Linked DNA regions of Homo sapiens. The protein of the gene in region 2 purifies or fractionates together with the protein of the main gene of each other region. This does not show direct contact. Each region holds a gene or a part of one and is shown on either strand. Other genes may lie near its edges. The genes, in order: BCAT1 and ADPRH.

What was found.
Region 1: the proteins of ADPRH (region 2) and BCAT1 purify together in Homo sapiens (affinity purification with mass spectrometry; one large-scale study listed by BioGRID and IntAct). This does not show direct contact.

What each region holds. Positions count from the first base shown.
Region 1 is NC_000012.12:24,938,829-24,942,655, reverse strand, and holds part of BCAT1 (branched-chain-amino-acid aminotransferase, cytosolic), read left to right. Parts: intron 1-3,827.
Region 2 is NC_000003.12:119,582,416-119,586,242, reverse strand, and holds part of ADPRH (ADP-ribosylarginine hydrolase), read right to left. Parts: coding exon 3,776-3,827; intron 1-3,775.

The DNA.
Region 1 (3,827 bases), on a different chromosome or scaffold from region 2:
GGAGAAGGCCAGTATGGCCATGTTCTTTGCAGGTGACTCCACCTTAGCCACAGCTGATTGTAACAAGGGTGTATATTTGGCCCAAGTCCAGCCATCTTTTTTTTTTTTTTTTGAGGCGGAGTCTTGTTCTGTCACCCACGCTGGAGTGCAGTGGTGTGATTTTGGCTCACTGCAACCTCTGCCTCCCGGGTTCAAGCAATTCTCCTGCCTCAGCCTCCTGAGTAGCTGGGATTACAGACACCCACGACCACGCTTGGCTTTGTATTTTTGTATTTTTAGTAGAGACGGGGTTTCTCCATGTTGGCCAGGCTGGTCTAGAACTCTTGACCTCAAGTGATCCGCCCGCCTTGGCCTCCCAAACTACTGGGATTACATGCCCAGCCAGCCATCTTTTACTTCTTTCTTATTCTCTTATTCCACATATTCAAGCAGGTACCACGTCCTGTGGACTCTGTCTTCTCTGAATCTATAGGTTCTCTCTTTCCCATTGCCCTGCATACTGGTTTATGCTCTCATTACTTCTCGCTTGAATTATTCCAAAAGTCTCCCAACTGGTCTGAAGCTTAATTTTCATTATGTGCTGTTCGATGTCATTCCACCACGCAAAATCTATGGCTTCTCCATTGTCTCCTGAGTTTAGTTTAGTGCATGAGACCGTTTAAAATCTACCTACACCTCTTCTATGTGCATGCATTTCTCTAGTCATAAGAGAGGATTTGATCTATCTCAAAATGTGTTCTTATATTTGCATTTACTGGTTTTTAACTCCCTCCATCCTATCTATAATTTGCACCATGTTGCTCACCATGCAGCCCACTCCCCAGACACCTTGTGAGAACAGTGATCATGTTTTTGCAGTGGAATGAACATGGGCGAAAGGTGGGAAGGTATGCATAGATTTACATTTTGAAGTCAGGAAATAAGATACTGATCAATGCTTTAATTCGACTGTGCTTTTTACCTTTTCCTCTGTTGTAGCATGAACCTTGCCCCAAAAAGATATTGATCATATGCTGCAACTCCTCTGCACTTACCTTTTCTTCTACCATGGCAGGAACCTTGCACCATTGTTGGTGCTTTACAGATATTGGTTGAGTTAAATCGAGAGCCTATTTCTGGACTTTCAAGATTCAGATTAATTGATTCTGTTTTATACTTCTCTGTTTTTGAATGGCACATACATCTTTCCACACTTGGATTTCTTTGAAGTTAAAGCTTTAATTGACTTCCAAAAGACAGAGGATTATAAAAACACAGAGAACAGTAAAGTATTTACACGGTCTTAATGCCTATTGCCAAACACATATAGCTGCTATTAATGCCTATTGCCAGACTCATATAGCTGCAAACTCATGTAGCTTAATGCCCATTGCCAAACTCATATAGCTGCTATATATGTCTACTGGAAAACTCACATAGCTGGTTGATTTTAAATTGATTGTAGGAAAATTCATACAAAAAGATGCTACATAGGAATATAAACTGAACACCACAAAAATCGTAATGAACAAACTCAGTAATGCCAGCCTGTTCAATCACTAGTTTTCAGATTAAGGCAGTATGCAAAGGGAAACATCCTTGGAATGGTCTTAGAATATAGAACAAAGTCATGTGTTTGGGAATCTTAACCAATTCCAATACTGTTCAACATGTTTTTCTTTGTTGCAAACAATGCAGTTTTTAAGCAAACTAATGAATGCATACCCTGACAAACAAATCCAACAAAAGAGGTACTTAGAGCAGTGTTCATTGAATCCTAGAATTTTGAAAGAAAAAATCTATTAGGTCATTTTGGGCTTTTACTTCTGCTGAAGAAGGATTGTTCTTTTGAGTTTATTTTTCTAGCTTTCAGTTCTATTCCATTTAAATGCCTCGAGAAATAGGACTTCTCAAATTCCCTGTGGAGAGTTCTGGCACCTACTATATTCACTTTTGAAAGTCTCCTGATAACTGATTTCCTTTTTCTTTTGGTTATACACATCAACTATTCATGGTTGGCTCTGCTGATAGTTTTCCATGATTCTTTATGCTTATTTAAAAGAAATCATATAACATTAATCATATAACATATAACCATTACTTGGTTATAAAGCATGATATTAACTAAACTGGCTTTTAAAAATTCAATAACATTAGAGCAAATATTTTATTAATATTGTCAGTAGTTCCATGAATATATAGATGTAGGATGTCAATAAAGTTTATGCCCCTTAATAACTGAGTGTGTTAATGTTGTATTTGCTGGTTAACTGGCACCTTCCCTCCTTTTGATCAATGTTCTTAGAACAGTATGTACAGGAGTACTTTAGTCTACCACTTGATATTCAAGGACAACACTTCGAAGCTTGAAATGAGGGATTGTTTTAACCATATTAACGTAACTGCATAGTTTGCAATAGATTTAATGATTCAACATCATTGTTAATATTTAGTTTAATTAAAAGTGCCTTATATTAACTTGTACACATGTGAAATGACTTATCAACAAGATTATTTATTGCAGCATTGTTTGTGATTACAAAGAGTGGAAGTCATTTGCATAGTCATTAGGCGTAAAAAATAATGACATTAAAAGAAAACAATTGAGGAAAGAACCAGTAAGCTCTCAGGTAGAGATAAAAAGAAAGTTACCGTGAGCCTTTTCACTGTATATATTTATATATTTGATTTTTGACACGTGAGTTTATTATAATCAAGATTGAATGAAAAAAATTGAAGCCTTTTAATGAAATTAGCTTGACACCAGAGTCATTATCAAGAAAATCTGAAATACTGGTACCTATGCACATTTGATTTTATTATTTTTAGTTTTATTATTTTTTGAGACAGAGTCTTGCTCTGTCGCCCAGACTGGAGTGAAGTGGTGTGATCTCAGCTCACTGCAATCTCCAGCCTCCCAGGTTCAAGCGATTCTCCTCAGCCTCCCGAGTAGCTGGGATTACAGATGCCTGCCACCATGCTTGGCTAGTTTTTGTATTTTTAGTAGTGACGGAGTTTTGCCATGCTGGCCAGGCTGATCTCAAACTCCTGACCTCAGGTGGTCCACCTGCCTCAGCCTCCCAAAGTGTTGGGATTACAGGCGTGAGCCACTGCACCCGGCCATTTAAGCAAATTTTAGTTAAGACCAGTAACATATTTTTGACAGTATTTCCGAAGTGTTGTATTTAATTTAACTAATTGAAAATTATCTATTAAGAAAGCAAGTTAAATGTAATGTGTATACTTCATAGTATACACATTATAATGATTCATAGTAACCATTATATGAAGAGTGTCTAAACTTTTCTTCAAATCTACCATTTATATAGTACAATAATGACCAGCAAACAATGGCTAAGTTTTACTTAATTAGACATTTGTGTAGCTCCTACCAAGGCTACCAGACTTTGTACCCAGTAACAGGAAAACAGAAATAATTCAAGCATTATTCTCACTCTTGAGAAACAATTCTATTTAGGGAGATATACATAAAAAGCAAAGGTGGCTGGGTGCAGTGGCTCATGCCTGTAATCCCAGCACTTTGGGAGGCCAAGGCAGGCAGATCACTTGAGGCCAGGAGTTCGAGACTAGCCTGACCAACATGGTGAAACCCTGTTTCTACTAAACATACAAAAATTAGCTGGGTGTGGTGGCATGCACCTGCAATCCCAGCTACTGGGCAGGCTGAGGCAGATAATTGCTTGAACCTGGGAGGTGGAGGCTACAGTGAGCTGAGATTGCACCACTGTACTCCAGCCTGGGTGACAGAGCGAGACTCCATCTCAATGAATAAATAAATAAATAAATAAATAGCAAAGGCAATAATGTGCATATAGTAGGTGCTACAG
Region 2 (3,827 bases):
AGCAAAGGCCCCAGCAGGAATAAATAACTAAACTCTGTCTCCAAGTATTTTTGATGGAAAGGGAGAGCCAAAAAATATGATGATGCATGCCCCAAAACTCCAAACCCCACCCAACAATGTGCCTTTCTTTATGTATAACCCTTGGCAAGATAACGCTAATAAAGGCAGCAGACTCATATAGGGATCCTTGGAATCTTTACCAGTCATTACTGAGACATCACAAAAAAATTAAGAAGTAAGTATATTGTTCTCTTTTTTAAGTAAATAAGCCTTTTAAGCTCAGAGCTTAAGAAACTTCCTCAAAATCACATAATCAGCTAGTTAGTGGCTGGGTAAAATCCATCAGACTCCAAAGCCCAATTCCTTATGGAGTCCAATAAGAACCTTACAATTAGGCCGGGAGCAGTGGCTCATGCCTGTAATCCCAGCACTTTGGGAGGTGGAGGCAGGCAGATCACGAGGTCAGGAGATCGGGACCATCCTGGCTAACACGGTGAAACTCCGTCTCTACTAAAAATACAAAAAACTAGCCGGGCGTGGTGACACATGCCTGTAGTCCCAGCTATTTGGAAGGCTGAGGCAGGAGAATCGTTTGAACCCGGGAGGCAGAGGTTGCAGTGAGTCGAGATTGCACCACTGCACCCTGGCCTGGGTGACAGAGCGAGACTCCGTCTCAAAACAAAAAACCAAAAAACAAAAAACAAAAACCTCACAATTGGAGTTCCTGAACATCAAAAAGAAAGAAAGCGGCCAAAAATTCTACAGTGAAGCCCTGGGCTCAGATGAGGAGCAGTGGATTCAGGGAAACAATGTGTCTTTGGTGAGTCACTGAACCTCTGGGCCTTGGCTATCCCCTCGTGACAGTGACGTAAGCAGGCTTGTCCCCCGACCTGTCCTACTGGGGACCTGTGAATACGCATGCGAACCAAGCGATGGCAGCAACATACGATGGAGTGTGGCACTGCTGTTCCTTTACTGGTCAGTGTTTTCACAAAAATGTTCATGGATGGCACAGGTGGACAAAAAAAAGTTTCCACTTGCTAAACTGATGAGCTATCAGATGCCGAGAAAGGATGAACAGAGATTGGCATCTAAAGCCAATCCTTGGGGTGACAAGGGCCCCTTGGTATGGTGATGGGAAGCTTTCATCAGGAGGTGTTATGTGCTGAATTGAGTCCCCCCAATTCAAATGCTGTAGCTCTAAGTACCTCGATTTGGAGATAGGGCCTTTAAAGAGGTGGTTAAGCTAAAATGTGGCCTTTAGGGTAGGCCCTAATCTAATCTGCCTGGTGTCCTTACATGAAGAGGAATGCAAACACACAGAAACACCAGGGATACATGCACACAGAGGAAAGACCATGTGAGGACACAGCGAGGAGGCAGCCATCTGCAAGCCAAGGAGAGAGGCCTCAGAAGAAACCAGGCCTGTCAATATCTTGACTTGGATTTCCAGTTTCCAGAGCTGTGAGAGACAAATTTCCATTGTTTCAGCCACTCAGTCTATGCCATTTTGTTATGGCAGCCCTAGCAGCCTCAAATAGGAGAGGTAGGTCAGATGGGCCAGAGAAAATCACCTGGTGGCCCAAGTGGCTCTAACAAGTTGCCGAAGTGGGCAAGAACCACTTGTGAGCGAACCTGTGGCCAGAAGTCTCTACAAAAGCCTTTGCATTTTTTTTTCTTGAGATGGGGTCTCACTCTGTCGCCCAGGCTGGAGTCCAATGGCGCGATCTTGGCTCACTGCAACCTCCGCCTCTGGGGTTCAAGTGATTCTCGTGCCTCAGCCTCCTGGGTAGCTGGGATTACAGGTGTGCACCATCACACCCAGCTAATTTTTTAATTTTTAGTAGAGATGGGATTTCACCATGTTGGTCAGGCTAGTCTCAAACTCCTGACCTCAGATGATCTGCCCGCCTTGGCCTCCCAAAGTGCTTGGATTACAGGCATGAGCCACCATGCCTAGCCGCATTTTTCTTTAAAAATAAAAAATATACATTTTTCTTTTTACTTATTCATCACAGAAAACTTAGAAATACAAGTAAGTAAAAATAAAAAACTATAAATACTCCCATCACCCAAATATAATTAGTAACATCTTTGTACATGTTCTTCAAGATCTTTCTCAACACAGAAATACATATCTATTTTTTAAAAAAAAGTTTTTTTTTGGCCAGGCATGGTGGCTCATGCCTGTAATCCCAGCACTTTGGGAGGCTGAGGCAGGTGGATCAACTGAGGTCAGGAGTTCGAAACCAGCCTGGCCAACATGGTGAAACCCCATCTCTACCAAAAATACAAAAATTAGCCAGACGTGGTGGTGCGTGCCTGTAATCCCAGCTACTTGGGAGGCTGGGGCAGGAGAATCGCTTGAACCTGGGAGGCAGAGGTTGCAGTGAGCCGAGATCGTGCCACTGCACTCCAGCCTGGGCAACAGAGTGAGACTCCATCTCAAAAAAAAAAAAATTTTTTTTTAACTGGCCACTCAAAAAAATTTTTTTTAAAGACAGGCTTTTGCTATGTTGCCCAGGCTGGTCTCAAACTCCTGGACTCAAGCAATCCTCTCACCTTGGCCTTTCACAGTGTTGGGATTACAGGTGTAAGCCACAGCACTTGGCCCCACAGATCTATTTTTTAAAGGACAGTAGGTTCATAACATACATACTATTTTATAACCTATTAGTGTATAATAATACTTTTCAATATTAGTAAATATTATTTGCAAATTTTAAATTTTTATTAATATTTAAATTGACAAATCAATTATATACATTTATTTAGTATAATGTGATGATTTGATATATGTAAACAATGTGGGATGATCAGGCTAATTAGCATATCTATTGCCTCACTTTTTTTTGTGGTGAGACATTTGAAATTTACTCTATTGGTTATTTTGAAATATACGATACATTGTTATTGAGTAGAGTCACCCTGAATAATTTTAAATGGTTGCAAATGTGTCAGCTTAATTAATTATGAGAGATTTAGGTTCTTTCTATTTATTTCTTTATTTTTTAGAGTCAGGGTATTGCTTTGTCACTCAGGCTGGAATGCAGTGGCACGATCCTAGCTCACTGTAGCCTCAACCTCCCGGGCTCAAGCAATCATCCTACCTCAGCCCCCCAAGTAGCTGGGACTACAGGTATGTGCCATGACACCTGGCTAATGTTTTAAAAATTTTTTTCTGGAGTTGTAGTCCCCAGCCTTTTTGGCACCAGCGACCGGTTTTACAGAAGATAATTTTTCCATGGACGGGGTTGGTTGGGGGAGGTTTTGGGACAAAACTGTTCCACCACAGATCATCAGACATTAGATTCTCATAAGAAGCCCACAATCTAGATCCCTCGCATGTGCAGTTCCCAACAGGGTTCAGGCTCCTATGAGAATCTAATGCGCCACTGATCTGATGGAGGCAGAGCTCAGGTGATGATGCTCCTTCGCCCATCACTCACTTCCTGCTGTGTGCTCCAGTTCCTAACAAGCCACGGATCAGTACCTGTCTCTAGAAGAGGGATTGGCTACCCCATTCTAGAGACAGGGTCTCCGTATATTGCTCAGGCTTGTCTTGAACTCCTGGGTTCAAGTGATTCTCTCACCTTGGCCTCCCAAAGAGCTGGAATTACAGGTATGAGCCACCACCATGGCCGTTATTTCTATTTTTATCACATTTACAAACACTATTGTCTCTGTTATTTAAATCTCCATCAACATTCTTAATGATTTCCTCAAGGCTGTTTTATTCTTTGCCCTCCTTGCACCTCCCACCGGCTGTGCTCACCTGGTGCCCGCCCATCCATGTCTTCCATGCAGTCTTGGTAATGCTTAGCAAG